4 linked regions of the Homo sapiens genome follow. The protein of the gene in region 1 purifies or fractionates together with the protein of each later gene. This does not show direct contact. Each region holds a gene or a part of one and is shown in the gene's direction. Other genes may lie near its edges. The genes, in order: IKBKG, PIAS4, NFKBIB and TNFRSF1A.

The links.
Region 2: the proteins of IKBKG (region 1) and PIAS4 purify together in Homo sapiens (affinity purification with western blotting; 5 studies listed by BioGRID, with this or other methods). This does not show direct contact.
Region 3: the proteins of IKBKG (region 1) and NFKBIB purify together in Homo sapiens (affinity purification with western blotting; 5 studies listed by BioGRID and IntAct, with this or other methods). This does not show direct contact.
Region 4: the proteins of IKBKG (region 1) and TNFRSF1A purify together in Homo sapiens (affinity purification with western blotting; 4 studies listed by BioGRID, with this or other methods). This does not show direct contact.

What each region holds. Positions count from the first base shown.
Region 1 is NC_000023.11:154,543,805-154,550,644, forward strand, and holds the start of IKBKG (NF-kappa-B essential modulator), read left to right. Parts: upstream 1-3,815; 5' UTR 3,816-3,941; intron 3,942-4,042; exon of another isoform or gene 4,043-4,285; intron 4,286-6,840. Other genes in the region: G6PD (glucose-6-phosphate 1-dehydrogenase), read right to left, coding at 2,232-2,359, 2,985-3,066. UniProt on the Homo sapiens protein: Regulatory subunit of the IKK core complex which phosphorylates inhibitors of NF-kappa-B thus leading to the dissociation of the inhibitor/NF-kappa-B complex and ultimately the degradation of the inhibitor.
Region 2 is NC_000019.10:4,017,717-4,024,751, forward strand, and holds part of PIAS4 (E3 SUMO-protein ligase PIAS4), read left to right. Parts: intron 1-6,319; coding exon 6,320-6,404; intron 6,405-7,035.
Region 3 is NC_000019.10:38,902,951-38,909,406, forward strand, and holds the end of NFKBIB (NF-kappa-B inhibitor beta), read left to right. Parts: intron 1-2,064; coding exon 2,065-2,170; intron 2,171-2,251; coding exon 2,252-2,585; intron 2,586-4,270; coding exon 4,271-4,359; intron 4,360-4,448; coding exon 4,449-4,709; coding exon of another isoform or gene 4,710-4,757; exon of another isoform or gene 4,758-5,780; coding exon 5,781-5,882; 3' UTR 5,883-5,939; downstream 5,940-6,456. UniProt on the Homo sapiens protein: Inhibits NF-kappa-B by complexing with and trapping it in the cytoplasm.
Region 4 is NC_000012.12:6,328,260-6,332,100, reverse strand, and holds the end of TNFRSF1A (tumor necrosis factor receptor superfamily member 1A isoform 1 precursor), read left to right. Parts: intron 1-107; exon of another isoform or gene 108-133; coding exon of another isoform or gene 134-225; intron 226-1,174; coding exon 1,175-1,248; intron 1,249-1,389; coding exon 1,390-1,503; intron 1,504-1,805; coding exon 1,806-1,834; intron 1,835-2,034; coding exon 2,035-2,323; intron 2,324-2,478; coding exon 2,479-2,789; 3' UTR 2,790-3,330; downstream 3,331-3,841.

The sequences.
Region 1 (6,840 bases):
TGCCTCAGCCTCCCAAGTAGCTGGGATTACAGATGGGTGCCACTACACCTAACTAATTTTTGTTATTTTTTTTTTTTTTTTGAGATGGAGTCTCACTCTGTCACCCAGGCTGGAATGCAGTGTTGCGATTTCTGCTCACTGCAAGCTCCGCCTCCCGAGTTCACGCCTTTCTCCTGCCTCAGCCTCCTGAGTAGCTGGACTACAGGTGCCCACACCAGGCCTGGCTAATTTTTTATTTAGTAGAGACGGGATTTCACCATGTTAGCCAGGATGGTCTCAATCTCCTGACCTCATGATCCACCCGCTTCAGCCTCCCAAAGTGCTGGGATTACAGACGTGAGCCACTGCGCCCGGCCTTTTTGTTTTGTTTTGTTTTGAGACAGAGTCTCGCTCTGTCGCCAGGCTGGAGTGCAGTGGCGCGATCTCAGCTCACTGCAACCTCTGACTCCCTGATTCAAGCGATTCTACTGCCTCAGCCTACTGAGTAGCTGGGACTACAGGCACGCACCACCACGCCCAGCTAATTTTTGTATTTTTAGTAGAGATGGGGTTTCACCATGTTGGCCAGGATGGTCTCGATCTCTTGACCTTGTGATCTGCCCACCTTGGCCCCCCAAAGTGCTGGGATTACAGATGTGAGCCACTGCGCCCAGCCAATTTTTGTATTTTAAGTAGAGACTGGGTTTCGCCATGTTGGCCAGGCTGGTGTCAAACTCCTGACCTCAGGCGATCCACCTGCCTCGGCCTCCCAAAGTGCTGGGAATACAGGCGTGAGCCACCGTGCCCGGCCAGGTATGGCTCTTCTGAGGGGACCAGGCTGGGGCTGGGGCTGAGGCCAAGCCCAATCTACTGTGGGCTCCACCTGGTACCTCTCCTGGGTCTCAGGCTTATGGGGAGTCAGAGGACAATGGCCCCTCCTTACTCTGCCACTGGCAGAGCCCTTCTCCCTCGGCTGCCTCCTCATTCCCTTTTGGCTCTCCTTTTCTAAGTTCTGATCAGAAGTACAAAGGTGTCAAGGAGTAGGTTTGACAAAGTGTGACAGCGCGTTGTTCTATGTGAACAAAGAACCACTGAGCTCAGCCAGCACTGAGGGGCGCACGATGTGGAAGAACTAACTAGTTTTGATAGAGCTCCTGCTCAAGGTTACAAGGTAAGTTAATGGCAAAGATGGTCATACAGTAATGAGCAGAGAGATTCTTGAGTGCATCCAGGGTTAAAAGTGAAAACTGAGACCACGTGTAATTTGAGATGAAGCCCTTGTTCCACCAGCCCCTGCACAGTCTCACTGCCCCATGGGACACAGGGGAGGGTGCTCTAGTCTCGGGCGATGGCTGTCCTAGGACCACCCCTCCCTCCCCTCCCATGGAAATCCTCATGCTATACTATTCTTTTGTCTTTCCTATGAGTGCAGAATGGCGGTTCTACAAGCTGGACAATTGGGGCCAGGTGGGGTGAGGCAGAGCTCCTTGGTAGGCTTTCGAAATTGAGGCAAAGAGACAGTGTTCAAAGAAAAGCTAAGTGTTTGTATCGACGGAACTTGAAGTGTTAGTGAAGAGGCAGAGATCAGGCCTCAGATCCTGCCTTTGGAACTCATTTGTTAAGGCATGAACAGGTCTGAAAAAACTACAGAATGAATAGCATTCCCTGTTTTCCCCAAGAAGTCCATCTAGACAGTCCCTAAAGAGCCTGCAACTCCAGGATTAAGGGCTACATTCAGCGGCTAGGCACAGGGTTCAGAAACGTCCTGCAGCCGGGCGTGGTGGCTCATGCCTGTCATCCCAGCACTTTGGGAGGCCGAGGCGGGCGGATCACTTGAGGTCAGGAGTTTGAGACCAGCCTGGTCAACATGGTGAAACTCCGTCTCTACTAACAATACAAAAATTAGCCGGGTGTGGTGGTGCATGCCTGTAATCTCAGCTACTTGGGGGGCTGAGGCAGGAGAATCGCTTGAACCCAGGAGGCCGAGGTTGCAGTGAGCCAAGATGGCGCCACTGCACCCCATCCTGGGCGACCAGAGCAAAACTCCGTCTCCAAAAAAAAAAAAAAAAAAAAGTCTTGCAAGTGCATATGCACACCAGGTAGAGCCGGGATGATCCTGGCGCACTAGCAGGAGCGGGAGGAGGAGCTCAACTTAGCAGAGCCTGTGGGGCCCTGCAACAATTAGTTGGAAAAGCTGAGGCATGGAGCAGGCACTTCCTGGCTTTTAAGATTGGGGCCTGGGAGATACTCACCGATGCACCCATGATGATGAATATGTGTGTATCCGACTGATGGAAGGCATCGCCCTGGAAAAGCTCTTCCCGCAGGATCCCGCACACCTGGGTCCGGCTCAGGGCCACCTGCTCTGCCATGACGCTGTCTGGTGGAAGAAAGGCTCGTTAACAAGGCAGAAGAACAGGAGAGCATTGAGAAGTTAGCCCCTTTCTTGAGAGTTCCTCTGGGGTCTCACACCAGGGTGACACCTGATTGCCCAAATCACTCCTTGTGAACGGCTGGGCATTGGGGAGTGGTTGATGGGTTAGAAACTGCTGGCTCTGGGCTCCAGCCACTCTCTCCTAGGCAGCCTTCATTCAGGGTGTACATTACAAAATTACTCAAAGCATTGGTGTATTCCGACTACAGCATCAATTCTGGACAACCGAGTAAAATCCTTGTGGGGCATGGAACTGCGTGCCCAGGACCATCTCATTCCCGACTGTAGCGGGAACTCCACAATGACCTGGAGCATGGGAGATGGTGCAGATGCTGGAGTTCAGCTCCAGCCCTCCCCTTGCCAAGCTGGGTGACCCCGGTCGGCAAGTCCCCTTCGCTCTCGGGGTCTCAGGGGCTCAAGAGAGGAGGTGCGGGGTATAAAGGGATTGGTTAAGACCCTCTCGATTCTGCTCGGTTCTCAAGCACAACAAACAGCGTGTATTTTACCGCCGCGCGGCGCAGCGCGGGACAGTACGCTCCTCCGCCTGCGCGGCGCCCGCCCGGCCGGTTACCTGCGCTTCGTCGTCGTCGCCCTCCGCGCTCGCAGCCCCGAAGTGTACGACCGTTTCCGGGGGCTGAGCCCCGCCGGCCCATTTAATCGGCGGGGGCGGGGGCGGGCGCCTGGGCTGAGCGGACCCGCCTCAGGCGAGGCGTGCGGGGCGGGGCCTCGGCCACCACCCCTCGTGCGGGCGGGGCGGGGCGAGGGCAGGTGCGCGCGCATCCCAGGCCAGCCCCTGCCTCTCGGGCACCTGCGCTGGAGGCCGGCCCGCCGGCTGCCTGCCATACCCGCTGCCGCTGCTCTGCATCCCCAATTCCGGCGGGCACGGGTGCAGCTCCGCGTAGTGCTCCCGCATCCCCATCGCCGGCCCGGCCCCGCCCCTACTGTCCGGTTTCCCCGCCTGCCCCGGCGGCCTCGCGCGCTCGCGGAGGGCTCCACTTCCGCCGGCAGCGTGGCCACGCCTCCTCTGGGCTGTCCCTCGGCTCCTGGGCGGGGCCTTCTGCCGCGCCACTCCCCCGGGAACCCTCGCCTGTTCGCGGGTCAAGCCGGCCCTATTGGGCAGTCTCTTCTTGATTCCTCCCCCGGAGAGGGCGGGGCGGCCGAGCGCCCCGAGGCTAGACGCCGCCGTCCGAGAGACGAGGGGGCGTGTAGGCGGTGACGCCCTGCAAAGTGGCCGGCGTGCTTATCATTACCGAGCTTCCGCGGGCCTGCAGAGCCTGGCGGACTCAGACTTCTCTCCGGAGCGGGATGCGGCCCTACCGCGGCCTCACACTTCTCGCCGGCTTCCCGAGTTCTCGGGGGCGGGGCTTGTGTTTTTACTTCCGGATCCCACAGCTATGACACCGGAAGCCGGAAGCGTGGTAGGGAAGGGCGACCGCGAAACTGGGACTTTCTCGGAGCGCCGGGGCCCTACCAGCGTTCACAGTCCGCCGCTCCCACCCTTCTCACGTCTGACGGACTCTGCTGACAGGTGTGGTCCTTTTCCCCAAAGACAGGGTTCCATCCGTGGGCGTTCCGCCGCCTCCGAAACTTCCCCCGGACGTTCAGGCTCCCCCCTCTTTTTTGGGCCCCAGCCCGTTCCTGCTCCGCGCTTCTGGAGCACTGGCCAAGGCGGGCCGATTCAGGACCCAGGTTACTTGGGCGGCGAGCTGGACTGTTTCTACTCCTCCCTCCTCCTCCACTGCGGGGTCTGACCCTACTCCTTGTGTGAGGACTCCTCTAGTTCAGAGACATATTCTGTTCACCAAACTTGACTGCGCTCTATCGAGGTCGTTAAATTCTTCGGAAATGCCTCACATATAGTTTGGCAGCTAGGTATCTGATTTCATATGCCTGTTTGCTCGTTTTGCAAGACAACATCTGCCTATCGTCATACTGTTTCTGTGATCTGAGAATGAATGGGCTCTCCTGGCACATTAGAGGAATAGCACGGAGGTCACTATAGCTGGAGCAGAGTGAGGGAGGGGAGCACAGTTGGAGAGGAAGGGATGGGGAACCCGATGGTACAGGGCCTTGTAGGCCGTTGTAGGGAGATTGGCTTTTACGCAGAAGGCAACGGGGATCCATGGTAGGGTTCTCAGTAGAGGAGGAATGTGATCGGAATTACGTCTTACACTGATCGTTCTAGCAGTGGTGGGGAGAACAGACCATAGTGGGCAAGGGTAAAAGAAGGGTGGCGTGGTAAGAGGTAATTGCAGTAATCCAGCTCAGAGACAGTGCTTTGAGCATTTTATTATTGGAAATTTCAAAAATGTACGAAAGTAGAAAAATGAGTATAGTAAATCTTTTTGGTTTGTTTGTTTTTGAGAGATGGAGTCTCGCTCTGTCGCCCAGGCTGGAGTGCAGTGGCATGATCTCAGCTCACTCTAACCTCCTCCTCCTGGGTTCAAGCGATTCTCCTGCCTCAGCTTCCCAGGTAGCTGGGACTGCAGGCGTGCGCCACTACGCCCAGCTAATTTTTGTATTTTTAGTAGAGACGGGGTTTCACTATATGTTGGCCAGTCTGGTCTTGAACTCCTGACCTCAGGTGATCTGCCTGCCTCAGACTCCCAAAGTGCTGGGATTACAGGTGTGAGCCACTGCGCTCGGCCAGTATAGTAAATCTTACATTCACAGCTACCAACTTCAACAATTGAAGGTATCAACTTCTGACTAATTTTGTTTATATCCCTCGCAATCCTCTCCCATTATTATTTTATTTCTTTTTCTTTCTTTCTTTCTTTTTTTTTTTTTTTTGAGACAGAATCTCGCTCTGTCACCAGGCTGGAGTGCAGTGGTGTGATCTCCACCCACTGCAACTTCCGCCTCCTGGATTCAAGCGATTCTTCTGCCTCAGCCGCTGGGACTACAGTTGTGCACCACCACGCCCAGCTAATTTTTGTATTTTTAGTAGAGATGGGGTTTCATCATGTTGGCCAGGATGGTCTTGATCTCTTGACCTTGTCATCCGCCCGCCTCGGCCTCCCAAAGTGCTGGGATTACAGGCATGAGCCACCGCGCCCGGCCTCTTTTTTTGAGACCCAGTCTCACTCTGTCGCCCAGAATGGAGTGCAGTGGCACGATCTTGGCTCACCGCAACCTCCATCTCCCAGGTTTGAGCGATTCTCCTGCCTCAGCTTCCCAAATAGCTGGGATTACAGGCATGCACCATCACTCCCAGCTATTTTTTTTTTTTTTGTATTTTTGGTAAATACAGGGTTTTGTCATGTTGGCCAGGCTGGTCTTGAATTCCTGACCTCAAGTGATCCACTTGCCATGACCTCCCAAAGTGCTGGGATTACAGGTGTGAACCACCATGCCTGGCCACCACTATTATTTTCAATAACAGCTTGAGATATCATTAGCATGTCACACAGTTCATCCATTTAAAGTGTACAATTCAATGGTTTGTTGTATGTATATTCACAGGACATTTTCGTCACCCCTCAAAGAAACCCCATACCCTTTAGCTCAGCTTATCTTCCCCTCAGCCCTAAGTGGCACTCCCCAGCAATCTTTAATCCACTTTATGTCTCTGTGGATTTGCCTGTTGTAGACATCTTATATAAATAGACTCATACAATGTTTAATCTTTTGTGACTTGTTTATTTCTCAGCATATTTTCAAGATTTGTTCATGTTATAGCATGTGGATGTACTAGATTTTGTTTATTCATAGTTGATGGACATTTGGGTTGTTTCCACTCTCTGGCTGCTATGAGTAATGCTGCTACAAGCATTCATGTGGACACATGTGTTTTCATTTCTCTCCGGTATATACCTAGGAGTTTTCCCATTATTTGGAGGTGAATTCAGACATCATCTTTAAACATTTAAGTGTGCCTCTCTCTAAGACAGGACTCTGAAAAACAACCACAATATCATTATGACACCTAAAATAGTTAATGTTAATTGCTCAGTGTGATCAGATCGGTTGGGGGATACATTTTAACAGGATTTCTTGATGGATTAGATGTGCTCTTGTGTGTGTGTGTGTGTGTGTGTGTATGTGTGTGTGTGTGTGTGAGAGAGAGAGAGAGAATCAAAAAAGACTTTTGACAGCTGGAGGATGGATTCGCCATCAGCTGATAACAAAGAAGGCCTTGGGTAGATCTGGGTTTTGGGGACTGTCGGAGGTCTTAGAGAGGTTCGTTTTGAGAAGGCTACTAGATAACCAAGTAGAAATGTCGAGTTTGATAAATGAATGTGGAGTTTAGAAAAGAGGTCTAATTAAGCATCAAGATTGGAGTTCAAGGCATGAGACTGGACAGAATTCCTGTGGGAGTGAATGAAGTTACAGAGAAGAAGATGTCCTAGGACAGAGCCCTGGGGCAGCCCAACATGAAGGATGGGAACCCAGTGAGAGTGCCTGGGCAGGAGTAGCCAGCAAGA
Region 2 (7,035 bases), on another chromosome or scaffold:
TCGCCCGTGCTGGAGTGCAGTGGCGCGATCTTGGCTTACTACAGCCTCCTGGCTTCAAGCGATTCTCCTGCCTCAGCCTCCCAAGTAACTGAGATTACAGGCACGCACCACCACACCCAGCTAATTTTATGTACTTTTAGTAGAGACGAGGTTTCACCATCTTGACCAGGCTAGTCTTGAACTCCTGACTTCAGGTGATCCACCTACCTTGGCCTCCCAAAGTGCTGGGGTTACAGGCGTGAGCCACTGCGCCCAGTCTCATTTTTTGTATTTTTAATGGAGACGGGGTTTCGTCATGTTGACCAGGCTTGTCTTGAATTCCTAACCTCAAGTGATCCACCTGCCTCGGCCTCCCAAAGTGCTGGGATTATAGGCGTGAGCCACCAGGCCCGGCCCCAGTCAGCCTTTTAAAAACTCCCTGTGTTTCATTTCTATTTAAACTTGTACAATTATGCGCTTGTCCTAGAAAACTGGAGTCAACAGCAGAGCAGTCCGGCCGGCGCCCTGCTGCCCGAGTGGGCCGCCTCGGTACACCGGGCCGGTGCTTGCCGCCTTCTCCCTTTGCATGTGTGATTGTAGGAATGTGTGGCTGTGTCCTGGCTGCTATTTTATAACCACCCCCCATACTGTGAGCATCTGCTCACAGCGTTAAATATTCATCGTCAGCAGCATCTCGTGAGGCTCCCTGGCAGCCTTGGGTGGAGCCAACGGCTGGGCCCTTCTTGTTGGGCTCTCGGATCGGGCCCAGGGGCTGCTTTTCGTGCCCGGGCCGGAGGGCCTGGCTGAGCACCTCACCCCAGAACCGGCTCTGCCTGGCAGGGCCCCCGTGGTCACCTGATCTTGCACCTGGCCCCAAAGGTGCATCTGGTTCAGTGGTGCCCTTGCCTTGGTCCCGTGGCCTTGGATGCTGGGCAGCCCACGAAACCATCTCCCCCTTGGGGAACTTCATGCTTCAGTGGCCCAACAAGAAGGAGCAGCAGAGTGATGTAGGGAAACTGAGTCGCTCCTTAGGAGGAGAAGGTTTGGAGAAAAGTGAGGTGGCGGGGGGTGCGGTTTTTAAATGGGGTGCTCAGCGAAGGCTTTCCTTCTGGTGACATTTGTACAAAGACAAATATAGGGCCATGAGGCTGGTCGGGGGAGGAAGGTTCCAGAAGAGGGAATGGCAGGTGCGGAGGCCCTGATGCAGCATGGCTGGTGGGGCCCAAGCAGGAGGCCAGGGTGGTGGCCGTGTGTGCGCCGGGGTGTGTGTGGCCCTGAGCAGGGGTACTGAGGGTCAGGGGTCTCCTGCGGAGCCATCCCAGGGGGCGGGCTCTGGCTGCTGAGACCGGCAGAGCTGGGGGCAGTCGTCTGCACCGGGCGGGATTTGAAAACAGAGCTGACAGGACTGGCTGAGGGAGTGGATGTTTGCAGGACAGCAGAGACGGGGGCTTCATGGATGCCACCTGGGTTTCTGGCCCCAAACAGCTGACCCCGAGGGCAGAAGGGCAGGTTTGAGGGAGACCCCACAGCCCCTTCCCCAGCATAGGGGGGCCGGGTGTTTGGGGGGAACCGTCAGCGGCCCGGGGCCAGTGGCACAGCAGTGAGAGCACAGGGCACCTCCCAGGCCCCCAGCAGAGAAGCACAGCCCGGTCTCCCCCAGAGGGAGGAGCCCTCCCAGGGCAGGGACCCCAGAGTCTTGTTCTTCAATGACTGGGCCCTGTCTGCCCCAGGCATGGGCTGGCAACAATCCCTGGCCAGCTGGGTGGCTCCCTTGCTGCCTGCTGGGGACCCACCCTTCTCCCCTACCTCCTTCTGAGACACTGAGGGGTGGGGTGTCTGTGTTTTCACCTCCGACCCAGCCTGGAAGCTCAAGGCCCAGCTCAGGTGTAGGCTCCCGTGCAGCCTCCCTGCCCCTGAACCATTGCTCCCCTGGCACTCAGGGCAGACCTGGGCGCGTCTGCAGGTGGCCTGTGTGCCCCCCTCCCAATTAGGCGGCCTTCCTCAAGGGCCCAGCCGGGACTCCACAGCCCATCACCTCTGCAGAGACTGGCTGTGCCCTGAGCATATAAACGGGAACCGGCTGTGGCAGCCCCCTCTTCCTGAGGGCCAGCCACAGACCCGGCACCGGTCCCCGAAGAAACAGGTCAACATGGGCGGGACGTGCAGGCTGAGGCCACAGAGGCCCTGGCAGGGCTGGGAGCCGAGCCCAGGGAGTCTGGCTTTTTTCTTTTTTTTTTTTTTGAAATGGAGTCTCGCTGTCGCCCGGGCTGGAGTGCAGCGGCAGGATCTCAGCTCACTGCAAGCTCCGCCTCCCAGGTTCACGCCATTCTCCTGCCTCAGCCTCCCGAGTAGCTGGGACCACAGGCGCCTGCCACCACGCCCGGCTAATTTTTTGTATTTTTAGTAGAGACGGGGTTTCACCATGTTAGCCAGGATGGTCTCTATCTCCTGACCTCATGATCCGACTGCCTCGGCCTCCCAAAGTGCTGGGATTACAGGCGTGAGCCACTGCACCCGGCTTCTCGTGGGTTTTAATTGAGAAAGTTCCAAGACAGTGCTGGTAGTTGAGGTGCGATCCCATGGCTCCGGTTCTTGTAAAGGCCCTGTCGTGGGTGCAGGCCACACCACTGTGTGCACTGCCGTCCTGGGAGCACCTGGGAGCACAGACATAGCCTGCGAAGCTGATGAGCTCCAGCCTTTACCAGGGGCAGTTCGCCATCCCTGTTCTAAAGGGCTTGCCTGTCATCTCGTTGTCTCGTCTCCCGGCCACTGCAAGGCTGCCATTGTGGCCAGATTCTCGCTCCCCCACGCTCTTCCGATATTTTTTACACTTATAAACAAATAGGTGTTTACTCAGATGCCTTCTCTCCATTTTCATTACACAAGTGATAGCAGGACGTGCACGCTGCTCAGCGTTTTTGCTTTGTATCTAAATATATTTTTTAATGTAGACACAGTCTTGCTATGTTGCCCAGGCTGGTCTCGAACTTCTGAGCCCAAGCAGTCCTCTCACCTCAGCCTCCTGAGTAGCGGGAATGACAGCTGCACACCAGCACACCTGGCTCAGGCTTATTTAAAAACTTTTTTTAGAGACAAGGTCTCACTGTGTTGCCTGGGCTGGGCTCCAACTCCTGTGCTACAGCGATCCTCCCACCTTGGCCTCCTGAAGGGTTGGGGTTACAGGCATGAGCCGCTGTGCCCAGCCTGCAAGTTTCTTTGAACGCATGTTTCCATGTATTGAGGGAAAATACTTTGGAGTGGGATTCCTGATTCCTGGGTGATAGGGTAGGTCTGTGCTTACCTTTATAAGGGTAGTTTCCCAGAGTGATGGTACTGTCTTATAACCCCACCAGCAGAGAGTTCTGATTGCTCTACACCTTTGCCATCTCTTAGAGTTGCCAGTCCTTTCATTTTAGCCATGCTAGTGGGTGTGTAGAGAGGTATTTTATTTTATTTTACCTCATTTTATATTATTGATACAGAGCCTCACTCTGTCACCCAGGCTGGAGTGCAGTTACACAATCTCGGCTCACTGCAACCTCCGCCTTCTGGGTTTAAGCGATTCTCCTCAGCCTCCCGAGTAGCTGGGATTAGAGGCGTGTGTCACCATGCCTGGCTAATTTTTGTATTTTTAGTAGAGATGGGGTTACCATATTGTCCAGGCTGGTCTTGAACTCCTGACCTCAAGTGATCCACCTGCCTCGCCTCCACAGTGCTGGGATTCCAGGCATGAGCCACCGCACCTGGCCTGGGTGTGTAGAGAGGATTTAAACCGGTCTTGGATTTCTACACAAATCGCAGGGGCCTGAAATACTGGCTGATATTTTGTGGAGGATTTTACATCTGTGTTCATGAGGGGTATTCATCGGGAATTTTCCTTCCTTGATGCTGAGTTGTGAGGTTTTGGTATCAGAGTTATGCTGGCCTTGTAAAATAAGAAGTATGCTTTCCTTCTCTGTTTTTTGAAAGAGTTTATGTACGGTTTATGTGGTTTCTTTCCAAAATGTTTTATAGAATTCACCGATATGGACCTGCATTTTCTTTTTCTTTTTTTTTTTTTTTTTTTTTGAGATGGGGTCTGATTCTGTTGCCCAGGCTGGAGTGCAGTGGTACGATCATGGCTCACTGCAGCCTCCACTTCCTGGGTTCAAGCAATCCTCCTGCCTCAGCCTCCAAAGTAGCTGGGACTACAGGTGGTGTGCACCTCCACACCTGGCTAATTTAAAAATTTTTTGTAGAGACAAGGTCTCACTTTGTTGCCCAGGCTGGCCTCAAACTCCTGGGCTCAAGCAATCCACCCACCTCAGCCCCCAAAGTGCTGGGATTACAGGCATGAGCCACCATGCCCAATCTGGACCTGCAGTTTTCAGAAAAGGTTTTAATTATGGATCCAACTTCCTTAACAGGTAAAGAGCTTTTCAAACTTCCTGTATCTTTTGGTACCCGTTTTGGTAATTTGCATCTTTGGGAGGATTTGTCCATGTCACTAAGTTGTCAGATTCATTGGCATAAAGTTTCACCTTTTATTCCCCTATTGAACCGAAAAGCTGTAGGGTCTGTACTATTGTTCTTTCATTTCTGATATTGGTAGTTTGTGTTCTCACTGTCTTTTTGTTGTTCAGCTAGAGTTTTGTTTTTTTTGTTGTTGTTGTTGTTTTTGGTGGTTTTTTTTGAGACAGAGTCTCGCTCTGTAGCCCAGGCTGGAGTGCAGTGGCACGATCTTGGCTCACTGCAAGCTTCGCCTCCCTGCAAGCTCCGCCTCCCAGGTTCGCGCCATTCTCCTGCCTCAGCCTCCCTAGTAGCTGGGACTGCAGGCGCCTGCCACTACACCCAGCTAATTTTTTGTATTTTTAGTAGAGATGGGGTTTCACCGTGTTAGCCAGGATGGTCTCGATCTCCTGACCTCGTGATCCACCCCCCTCGGCCTCCCAAAATGCTGGGATTACAGGCGTGAGCCACCGCGCCTGGCCGTTTGTTTTTGTTTTTGTTTTTTTGGGTTTTTTTGGAAACAGTCTCACTCTGTCGCCCAGGCAGTGGTGTGATCTCCACTCACTGCAACCTTTGCCTCTCAGCTTCAGACAATTCTCCTGCCTCAGCCTCCCAAGTAGCTGGGATTACAGGCGCCCGAACCAGGCCTGGCTATTTTTTTTTTTTTTGAGACACCACACCCTGCTGTTTTTTTAAGAGATGCGGCAGCCAGGCGCCGTAGCTCATGCCTGTAATTCCAGCACATTGGGAGGCCGAGGTGGGCAGATCACCTGAGGTCGGGAGTTCGAGAGCAGCCTGGCCAACATGGAGAAACCCTACCTCTACTAAAAATAGAAAATTAGCCGGGCGTGGTGGCTCATGCCTGTAATCCCAGCTGTTTTGGGAGGCTGAGGCAGGAGGATCACTTGAACCCAGGAGGTGGAGGTTGCAGTGAGCTGAGATTGTGCTATTGCAGTCCAGCCTGGGCAACAAGAGTGAAACAAAGTCTCAAAAAAAAAAAAAAAAATGGGGCTGGCTGGGCACAGTGGCTCACGCCTGTAATCCCAGCATTTTGAGAGTTTGAGATGGGCGGATCACCTGAGGTCACGAGTTCGAAACCAGCCTGGCCAACATGGCGAAATCCCATCTCTACTAAAAATACAAAAATTAGCCAGGCTTGGTGGCTATTCGGGAGGTTGAGGCAGGAGAATCGCTTAAACCCGGGAGACGGAGGTTGCAGTCAGCCGAGATCGTGCCATTGCACTCCAGCCTGGGCGACAGGGTAAAACTCCATCTCCAAAACAAAACAAAACAAAACAAAACAAACAAAAACCAATGTTTTCTGACTGCGCCTCTGCCTGTCAGTCCAGTTGTAAGTAAGAGGGTAGGGCCCAGGCTTGTGAGCACCATGGCCTTCATCCCGTCAGTACCCCCCGCACCACCTCTGTCCGGGTGACGTGGCCACCCTGCAGGCAGGAGGAGAGCAAGGGCCGGGTCCGGTTTGTGCTCAGGAGAGAGGAGGTATGGCAGTGTCCTGCTGGCCTGGCTGGGTCCAGCTCTCCCCGCCAGGCAGCTCGGCACTTTTCGGTTTCCTAAGTAGACGCCTGCATCCCACAGGCTGCGAAGGTCACCCAGCAATCTGAGTGGCCGTCAACAGGACACAGGCCATGGTGAGCGGCCCCGAGAAGGGGATGGGCGGGAGTCCTCCCTCATCCTCCTTCCTGGGCGGCCCCCACCTCTGCCCCACATATCTGTCCAGCCAACTTCCCATTTCCTGTTTCCTGGTCTGAAGAGGCGCAGGCTGGGAAAAGCGACTGGGCTCGGGGGACCTGCCAGGGACCAGACATGCCCCTGACCCCGTGTTTGTCTTCAGTCCCACAGAACAACGAGAAGCTTCAGGAGAGCCCGTGCATCTTCGCATTGACGCCAAGACAGGTGGAGTTGATCCGGAACTCCAGGTGTGCGGCACCTCCCCCAGCCCAGCACCCCACCGCCCGCCCACCCACTTTCTCCTGGGCTCACTGGGGAGAGCCGGCAGCCACGTCCACTGCAGGCCTCGCTCGGGCTCAGTCCAGAACCGTGCTGCAAGGCAGTGGCCGGGTTTGCTTCCTTCCAGAAAACCCCATCCTGGGTCTCAGGTGCTGGCCTGTGTGCCCACTGCCTGTGCCCTGCAGCCTGCTAGAGAGAGGCGGACTGACTGTGCCCTTTTAACACGGTCTTGCCCTCCTGGGCCCATCCTGGGCATTGCAGGGAGCGGAGGAGCATTCCTCGCCTCCACCCACGCCATGACAAGAACACACCCCTGTTGTGACAACCACAGATGTCCCCAGACATTGTCCAGTGTCCCCTAGGGCAGGATAACCCGGGCGAGACCTCCCTGGGTTAGGGGATTCCACGTATCCCCAAGAGACTCTGTGTCCCATGATCCTCTGCCCTGCTGAGGTCCCAGAAGGCTGCATACATTGAAATCCACACCCTGAATTGGAGGGGGAGAAAGTAGGTGAATCCCAGGAGCTGGGGGTCCCCGGTTTACACCGCCCGCCTTAGGAATTTATTCTGGTGTCCAGCATGAGCAGGAAGTTAAGTCAG
Region 3 (6,456 bases), on another chromosome or scaffold:
TGTAATCCCAGCTACTTGAGAGGCAGGAGAATCGCTTGAACCCGGGAGGCGGAGGTTGCAGTGAGCTGAGATCACGCCACTGCACTCCAGCCTGGGCAGCAGAACGAGACTCCATCTCAAAAAAACAAAACAAACAAACAAAAAAAGAAAAAGAAAAACAAAACCAAAAAGAGAAACCATATGACCTACAAAGACTAAAATAGTTATCTGGCTCCTTACAGAAAAAGTTTGCTGACTCCTGCTGTAGGGTTGATAGTTTACAACTTTAGGTTATCATGGGCTACCTTAAAGTGATATTATGCCATTTCACATAGAGTAAAAGAAATTTATTTTATTTTATTATTATTATTTGAGACGGAGTCTCACTCTGTTGCCCAGGCTGGAGTGCAGTGGCACGATCTCAGCTCACTGCAACCTCCATTTCTCAGGTTCAAATGATTGTCCTGCCTCAGCCTCCTGTGTAGGTGGGATTACAGGCGCATGCCACCATGCCTGGCTAAATTTTTTTTGTATTTTTTGTAGAGACAGGGTCTCATCGTGTTGGCCAGGTTGGTCTCAAACTCCTGACCTCAAGTGATCTGCCCGCCTTGGCCTCCCAAAGTGCCAGGATTACAGGTGTGGGCCACCGTGCCCAGCATAATGAACTGTTTTAATATTCTTGTTTGCAAATTCTAACATCTCTGTCATTTCTGGGTCAGTTTCAATTCACTGATGGTTCCTATTATGGATCATGTTTTCCTGCTTCTTTACATGCCTGATAATCTTTGGTTAGGTGCCAGACATTGTGAATTTTGCCTTGTTAGTCTGGAGAATTCTGTATTCCTATAAATATTCTTGAGGCCGGGCGCCGTGGCTCACACCTGTAATCCCAGCACTTTGGGAGGCCAAGGCGGGTGGATCACGAGGTCAGGAGTTCAAGATCAGCCTGGCCAACATGGTGAAACCCTGTCTGTACTAAAAACTGCAAAAATTAGCCAGGTGTGGTGGCACGCACCTGTGGTTCCGGCTACTCGGGAGGCTGAGGCAGAAGAATCGCTTGAACCCAGGAGGTGGAGGTTGCAGTGAGCCACGATCGTGTCACTGCGCTCCAGCCTGGGCGACAGGGCAAGACTCTCTCTCAAAAAATAAAAATTAAAATAAATAAATAAATAAATAAATAAATAAATATTCTTGAATATTATTCTGGGATGGAGTTAAATTACTCGGAAGTAGTTTGAGTCTTTCCAGTTTTGCTTTTATGATTTGTTAGGTGGGTGTTGAGCAGTGCCCCATCTACAGTTAATTATTCCCCACTATTGAGGCAAGACCTTCCTGAGTATCCCACCCGATAGCCTGTGATGATGTTTTTCCAGCCTGGCTGGTGGGAACACTCACTATTCCTGGCCCTGTGTGAGTAACGAGCACTTTTCTGAAATCCTTTTGGATGGTTTTCCCATCCCCACAGACTCACAGGCATGGCTGATCCGTATTCTCCGGAATACACAAGAGAACCTCCTGCAGTTCCCCAGCAATCTCTCCTTTGGCAACTCTGTTTTGTACTCTGTCCTGTGACTCTAGCCACGCTGGCCTCCACAGACTCTTCCTCCATATCCATCTCCTGACCTCAGACAACCTGATGCGCTCTGCTTGGATTCCCCTCTCTGCACCGTGGCTTTGAAACTCTCTCAAGACAATAAGCTGTGGCAGTCAAGTGTGGGGCCCACCTCGTGTTTCCTGTCTTTCAGGGGTCACTGTGATTCATTGCACGATGTCCAGTGTCTTCAACACTGTTGCTTCATATACCGTATTTCGTCTGACTCTTGTTTGTTTGTTTGTTTGTTTCACGTGGGAGTGAATTCTGGTCCATGTTACTTCATTTTGGGCAGAAGTGGAAATCCCACTGAATAAACATTGATTCCACGAATTTGCTGATGAAACTCTGACCTCTGACCTCCCAGATAGCTGACAGGGGGTTCCAGAACTGTGGTCACAAGGCCTAGCATACAGTAGGCGCCCCATGTTTGTTCAATGAAGGAATGCAAGAGGACTTGAACTTTGCCCTCTCACCCCGGTCTTTGTCCCCAGGGCACTGCACTTGGCTGTGATTCATCAGCATGAACCCTTCCTGGATTTTCTTCTAGGCTTCTCGGCCGGCACTGAGTACATGGACCTGCAGAATGACCTAGGCCAGGTGAGCCACGAGGGATGGTGTAGGGCTTGGGGTCCAGGGTTCCCAGTGTGACTCCCTACCGCCTGTCCTCTGCTTCTGCAGACAGCCCTGCACCTGGCAGCCATCCTGGGGGAGACATCCACGGTGGAGAAGCTGTACGCAGCAGGCGCCGGGCTGTGTGTGGCGGAGCGTAGGGGCCACACGGCGCTGCACCTGGCCTGCCGTGTGGGGGCACACGCCTGTGCCCGTGCCCTGCTTCAGCCCCGCCCCCGGCGCCCCAGGGAAGCCCCCGACACCTACCTCGCTCAGGGCCCTGACCGTACTCCCGACACCAACCATACCCCTGTCGCCTTGTACCCCGATTCCGACTTGGAGAAGGAAGAAGAGGAGAGTGAGGAGGACTGGAAGCTGCAGCTGGAGGCTGAAAACTACGAGGGTGAGGGTCGTCACCAGGGAAGGACTCAGCTCCTGGGCTAGGCGAGAGCACCTGGCCCTGGGCTCAGCTTCCCTGATTTGAGACTGAGCTCCTTGGGAAATCATGCCTAGGCTTCAGGAGCCCACACATCGGGACCAGGGACCTCCACTCAGGGCCCAGATGATTGAGAATTGGATATGTAGGACCCAGGACCCCCACCTGGAGGCCCCAGGTCACTTGGGATGCAGACCTGTCACCCACAGACCCAGAGCTGCCAGGATCCAGTTGTCGGGCCCCCGGGCTCCCCACCTGCAGAGTGTATTGCAGACCCCTACCCTACCCAGGACCGGGGAATGCAGAGCTCAGGCCCTCTGTGAAACTCTGGCACCCCAGGCTCCCAGCAATGGGCAGCAGGGTTCAGAGACAGCCCTCCTCAGCCTCATGGGAAGAAGGGCTCATCTGCCCACAGCCCTGACATCCAAGTTTCTGCTCCCCTGCCTATAAGCCCAGCCACCTGAGACCAGACCCCTCCTCAGATGGACTGACGTCATTCAGGACCCAGTGTTCAGGGCCTGCCTCTCGCCCCCAGGTCACAGGCTTTTCAGCTACTTGGTACCTTTTTTTTTTTTTTTTTTTTTTTTGAGACAGTCTCACTCTGTTGCCAGGTTGGAGTTCAGTGGCGTGATCTTGGCTCACTGCAACCTCCACCTCCCAGGTTCAGGTGATTCTCCTGCCTCAGCCTCCCGAGTAGCTGGGATTACAGGGATTACAGGCACATGCTACCATGCCCAGCTTATTTTTGTATTTTTAGTAGAGACGGGGTTTTACCATGTTGACCAGGCTGGTCTTGAACTCCTGGCCTGGCCTTAGGTGATCTGCCCGCCATGGCCTCCCAAAGTGCTGGGATTACAGGTGTGAGCCACCGTGCCTGGGCAGGAACCTTAATTTAAGGTTTTTTTTTTTTTTTTTTTTTGACATGGAGTCTCACTCTGTTGCCCAGGCTGGAGTGCAGTGGCGCCATCTCAGCTCACTGCAAGCTCCGCCTCCTGGGTTCACACCATTCTCCTGCCTCAGCCTCCCGAGTAGCTGGGACTACAGGCGCCCGCCACCATGCCCAGCTAATTTTTTGTATTTTTAGTAGAGATGGGGTTTCACCATGTTAGCCAGGATGGTCTCGATCTCCTGACCTCGTGATCCACCCGCCTCAGCCTCCCAAAGTGCTGGGATTACAGGCGTGAGCCACTGTGCCTGGCCTTTATTTTTTATTTTTAGTAGAGACGTCTTGCCATGTTGCCCAGGCAGCTTCTTGAACTCCTGAGCTCAAGTGATCCTCTTGCTTTGGCCTCCCAAAGTGCTGGGATTACAGGTGTGAAATAGCGTGCCAGCTCAGGTCCTTTGAGTGATAAGAGCAGAGACTTGGGTCTCCTCCTGGCCCCAAAATCCAGGCTCCCTGTCCACAGACCCCAGGCTGTTTACCCGCGGGCCCCAGGCTTCAAACAACTCAGGCACTAGCACTTGCCAGCAAGCTCAGGCCATCTGAGATAGGCATTTGGTACCCAGGTACCTCTTTGCCATACCCAAGAATTCAGGAACCAGCCCCCAAACCTAATCACCCTCACGCCACATGACCCTCCCCCAGGATCAAAGCACGGTGGGGTGGGGGGGGCCCTCACCTCATCATCTGACGCCAATCACTCTGTCCCCAGGCCACACCCCACTCCACGTGGCCGTTATCCACAAAGATGTGGAGATGGTCCGGCTGCTCCGAGATGCTGGAGCTGACCTTGACAAACCGGTGAGCCCCAACCTCGGGGAAGATGCCGTCGGCGGGAGGGGGCTTGTCCCCTCTTCGGGCCCTCTGACCTTTCTGTTGCACCCCCACAGGAGCCCACGTGCGGCCGGAGCCCCCTTCATTTGGCAGTGGAGGCCCAGGCAGCCGATGTGCTGGAGCTTCTCCTGAGGGCAGGCGCGAACCCTGCTGCCCGCATGTACGGTGGCCGCACCCCACTCGGCAGTGCCATGCTCCGGCCCAACCCCATCCTCGCCCGCCTCCTCCGTGCACACGGAGCCCCTGAGCCCGAGGGCGAGGACGAGAAATCCGGCCCCTGCAGCAGCAGTAGCGACAGCGACAGCGGAGACGAGGGCGTGAGTCAGGAGGAGAGACAGGGCAGCCCAGCTGGGGGGTCAGGATAGACCGGCAGGCAAGAAGCCCAAGAAGATAATTAGGCACCGACCTTGGGCTGCTGTTAGAGAACTCAGGCAGCAGCGCCAGTGACACGGGGCACTAGTCAGGAGAGACCTGGACAGGGGTGGTGGGAAGAGCTTGGGCAGAAGTGGCTGAAAAACTAAGGCAGTGGCAAAGGTAGAACTCAGGCAGGGGTGGAGAAAAGGCGTTGGTCGCAGTGATTGGTGAACACAGCGGGGGTGGGTGGTAGCGCTGGGGGTGATTTTAGGCAGCAAGAATTGGAGAACTCACACTGCGAAAAGAAAACCTTGGGTGGCAGTGATTTGAACACCGGCAGTGCTGGGGCAGGACCCGAGCCAGCGGTGGGGAGAGATATAGTCAGAGAACCCAGCAATACAGATCCGTCCTTGGGCAAGGCGCGGTGCTGGATGATGGGTGCGGAGGAATTTGGGTAAAGGCAGAGGGAAGGGGTGGAGGAGGGCCAGCTCAGTTGCCGAAACTCTGGAGTGGCGGCTGGCTAGAAATTGGTCTGTAGAAATGACCTTGAAAATGGAGTTCTGGCCAGGTGCGGTGGCTCACGCCTGTAATCCCAGCACTTTGGGAGGCCGAGGCAGGCAGATCACGAGGTCAGGAGTTCGAGACCAGCCTGGCCAACATGGCAAGACCCTGTCTCTACTAAAAATACAAAAATTAGCTGGGCGTGGTGGCGCATGCCTATAATCCCAGCTACTTGGGAGGCTGAGGTAGGAGAATTGCTTGAACCTGGGAGGTGGAGGTTGCAGTGAACCTAGATCACGCCACTGCATTCCAGCCTGGGCAACAGAGCGAGACTCCATCTTAAAAAAAAAAAAAAAAAAAAGAAAGAAAAGAAAATGGAGTTCTGAGAGCTAGGAAACTGGGAGGTTGAGCCAGGAGCAGGGGAACTTGGGCTTTGAGGCGAGACCTAATTCTTAGGGTGCTCTATGAGGACATGGGTGGTGGGCAAAGTGACAGCCGCCTGAGCCCCTCTGCCTGGTCCCCTTTGCCCCCAGGATGAATACGACGACATTGTGGTTCACAGCAGCCGCAGCCAAACCCGGCTGCCTCCCACCCCAGCCTCAAAACCTCTTCCTGACGACCCCCGCCCCGTGTGATTTGTTTCATTGTTAATATAATTTCCAGTTTAATAAACAAAACCCTAGTTCTGACAACCAGAGACCAGACTGATCTTGTCTTCCCAGTCCTCCGGGTCCTTCTGGGGCCCATCCCTGTCACATCAAGTGCTGCTCACGGAGGCAGGGTGCGTTTCTTTGTGCTTTATTCACTCAGAAGGGTTGGAGTGGGAGTGCATAGGTGTGGGGGTGCTTCCTGTGTCAGGGCTGAGCCCAGCCCCCGGCCCAGCTCAGACTCACCTCCTTGGGTGTGGTTCCAAGGCACGTCCGCCTCCTCCCCTGTTTGGGTAGGGGTGGCGTGGGGTGCTAGGTGAGGTGGAGGCTTCGGGGTCAACAGTCCTAAGCCACAGGGTGTGTCAGGAGGAAGGAGGGACTGAGGTAGGGGTCAGCCCTCCCTCCTGAGCTGCTCCCCCAGCGTCTCTGTCACCTTCTTCAGTTCGTCTCTCAAGTGCTCCAGCTGCTCCACCTCCTTTTCCTGGTGGGGTCAGAAACGGGGTAGTCAGCACCCACCTTCAAAGGCAGGCCACCTCGGTCACTGTGATTGTGGGCCATGTCG
Region 4 (3,841 bases), on another chromosome or scaffold:
TGAGAACCAAAAACAAAGAAACAAACAAAACCTACAACACGTCTGACACAAAACTATTTATTTTCCATTAATCTTCTTTTTTTTTTTTTTTTTTTTTTTTGACACAGAGTCCTGCTCTGTCGCCCAGGCTGGAATGCAGTGGCGCGATCTCGGCTCACTGCAACCTCTGCCTCCCAGATTCAAGCAATTCTCCTGCTTCAGCCTCCCAAGTAGCTGGGATTACAGGCACGTGCCACCATGCCTGGCTAATTTTTGTATTTTTAGTAGAGATGGGGTTTCACCATCTTGGTCAGGCTGGTCTCAAACTCCTGGTGATCCACCTGCCTCTGCCTCCCAAAGTGCTGGGATTACAGCCGTGAGCCACTGCACCCAGCCGGCTTCATCTCTTCTTGAAATCACTTTTATACCATTCTATGTGGTTCTCACCATGAGCTTGAGTGGTGGGCTAAAGTGCCTCTCCCTGCTTTCAGCTTCCTGCTGGGAACTCACTCTCTCAAGTTCCTTCCAGCACCACCCCATAGAGTTCCCATCACTCCACACTGTCCAGTGACAACTCCCAACATGGAAGATCTGCTAGTTCTACAGGGTGCTCTCTGGCTGCCCCAGTAACATGTGTTTTTAAATTTTTCACATGCATGTTTGACCCCGACTCCCCGAAGTCAGGTACTGTAACTAGCAGTGTCATTTAAGAAAAAGCCCTTTAACCTCTCTTTGCCAAAGGATTCTTATCAGCAAAACAGTGATGAAACAACAATCCCATAACAGCTAGCTGGCTACCTTCTCAAGCACTTATTAAATGAGGCATAATGATTTTGCTTAATCCTCAATCCTGAGAGGTGGGCGATCCCTGTGGTGATGAGGAAACCGAGGCTTGGGGGTTAATGGCTTGCCTAGATTCACACTGCTAGCCAAGGAATGAACTGGAATTTACACCCTGACCCTGACTGCTTTTCACATTTTCTACACAGCCTTTTCAAGATCCCTGCCAATTCTAAAATTAAATGATTCTATGATTAACTGTGTTTCATTCTTCTGCATCAGTTCCCAAAACAAATTATATCAAGAGACAGCAAAAATATTTGTAAAGAAAGGATGTCCAACAATCTGTGTGGTTGTTTTTCTGTGTTCCTCCAATGGTAGGGCCTCTGTTCACCAGTGCCGTCTCTTCTTTTAGCTGTAAGAAAAGCCTGGAGTGCACGAAGTTGTGCCTACCCCAGATTGAGAATGTTAAGGGCACTGAGGACTCAGGTGAGGAGAAGTGACCTGGTGCCCATGCTCACCTGCCCTCTCCCTCTTCTTGCCCCCACCCGTCCATCCATCCCACCCATCCATCTATCCCTGCGGCCCCCCTCTGCCCGCTCCTCTGACCAACACCTGCTTTGTCTGCAGGCACCACAGTGCTGTTGCCCCTGGTCATTTTCTTTGGTCTTTGCCTTTTATCCCTCCTCTTCATTGGTTTAATGTATCGCTACCAACGGTGGAAGTCCAAGCTCTACTCCATTGGTGAGTGGGGGCTTTGGGAGGGAGAGGGAGCTGGTGGGGGTGAGGGAGGACATGGGTGGGTGCGATGGACATGTGTGGAGGGAGGTGAGGAGTGTCCCCTCAGTTCATACCGCTGGGGACTCTGGGCAGAAGGTGGCCCTGGATGGCTGGGGAGATGTCGAGCTGCATCAGTAGCTCTCTCGTCCCTGGGGCCACATAGGCCCTGAGGCATGTCACCACAAGTCCCCACTGCCAGCTGAGTCCAGGGTGCCAGGGCTGAGAGAGGAAGTGAAATTTATGATGCTTTCTTTCTTTTTCCTCAGTTTGTGGGAAATCGACACCTGAAAAAGAGGTGAGATGAAATGAGAGAGTTACTCCCAAATGTCCCTGACCATTCCTTATAATTGCCTAATGCTCAGATCCCCTGGAATCATCCTTCACTTTCCGGGGGCTCGCCTCATTCCCTCTAAGTCCCAACCCCCACGTAGAATAAAGAGGGCCGGGGCTGGTTTTCGCTGCCGCACTAATGCTGCGCCACCTTCTCTCTTTCAGGGGGAGCTTGAAGGAACTACTACTAAGCCCCTGGCCCCAAACCCAAGCTTCAGTCCCACTCCAGGCTTCACCCCCACCCTGGGCTTCAGTCCCGTGCCCAGTTCCACCTTCACCTCCAGCTCCACCTATACCCCCGGTGACTGTCCCAACTTTGCGGCTCCCCGCAGAGAGGTGGCACCACCCTATCAGGGGGCTGACCCCATCCTTGCGACAGCCCTCGCCTCCGACCCCATCCCCAACCCCCTTCAGAAGTGGGAGGACAGCGCCCACAAGCCACAGAGCCTAGACAGTGAGTTTCTCCCGCGGCTGGAGACGAGGAGGCTGGGGGAGGGCCGGGGGAGCGCGGGAGGCGCTCCCAGAGGGGACCACGAGAGGCGGAGGGCGCGGGATGCGGGGCGGGGCCTGGGGTTGCCGCCCGAGGCTCACCGGCCCGCGTCCCCGCAGCTGATGACCCCGCGACGCTGTACGCCGTGGTGGAGAACGTGCCCCCGTTGCGCTGGAAGGAATTCGTGCGGCGCCTAGGGCTGAGCGACCACGAGATCGATCGGCTGGAGCTGCAGAACGGGCGCTGCCTGCGCGAGGCGCAATACAGCATGCTGGCGACCTGGAGGCGGCGCACGCCGCGGCGCGAGGCCACGCTGGAGCTGCTGGGACGCGTGCTCCGCGACATGGACCTGCTGGGCTGCCTGGAGGACATCGAGGAGGCGCTTTGCGGCCCCGCCGCCCTCCCGCCCGCGCCCAGTCTTCTCAGATGAGGCTGCGCCCCTGCGGGCAGCTCTAAGGACCGTCCTGCGAGATCGCCTTCCAACCCCACTTTTTTCTGGAAAGGAGGGGTCCTGCAGGGGCAAGCAGGAGCTAGCAGCCGCCTACTTGGTGCTAACCCCTCGATGTACATAGCTTTTCTCAGCTGCCTGCGCGCCGCCGACAGTCAGCGCTGTGCGCGCGGAGAGAGGTGCGCCGTGGGCTCAAGAGCCTGAGTGGGTGGTTTGCGAGGATGAGGGACGCTATGCCTCATGCCCGTTTTGGGTGTCCTCACCAGCAAGGCTGCTCGGGGGCCCCTGGTTCGTCCCTGAGCCTTTTTCACAGTGCATAAGCAGTTTTTTTTGTTTTTGTTTTGTTTTGTTTTGTTTTTAAATCAATCATGTTACACTAATAGAAACTTGGCACTCCTGTGCCCTCTGCCTGGACAAGCACATAGCAAGCTGAACTGTCCTAAGGCAGGGGCGAGCACGGAACAATGGGGCCTTCAGCTGGAGCTGTGGACTTTTGTACATACACTAAAATTCTGAAGTTAAAGCTCTGCTCTTGGAGACAGTGGTCTGTCGGGATGGGAGGTGGGGGCAGAGGCCCAGATCCTGAGGGGTGAGATGGGAAAAGCCCTGCACTAGGGCCAGGTAGCCCATCACCATCACGCCAAGTGACAGAGGAGTAGCAGGTTCTTGTTCTGAACACCGTCATCTGTTGCCCAAGCTGGAGTGCGCTCACTGCAGCCTCCAACCCTTGGGCTCATGGGGTCCTCCCGCCTCAGCCTCCGGACACAGGCACACCACCACACCTGGGTAATTTTTAAAATTTTTTTTTGTAAAGACAGGGTTTCCCTATATTGCCCAGGCTGGTCTGGAACTCCTGGGCTCAAGGGATCCTCCCACCTCAGCCTCCCAAAGTGCTGGGATTACAGGCAGCCATGCCCAGCCAGGGCAGTCATTTTTATGCACAACTTTCTGTGGGGCTCAGGTGCACCTATGATACATAAATTTACAGTTCTTGATCCCCAAACAGAGCAGGAGGCAGGGTGCCTGGGCCAGGC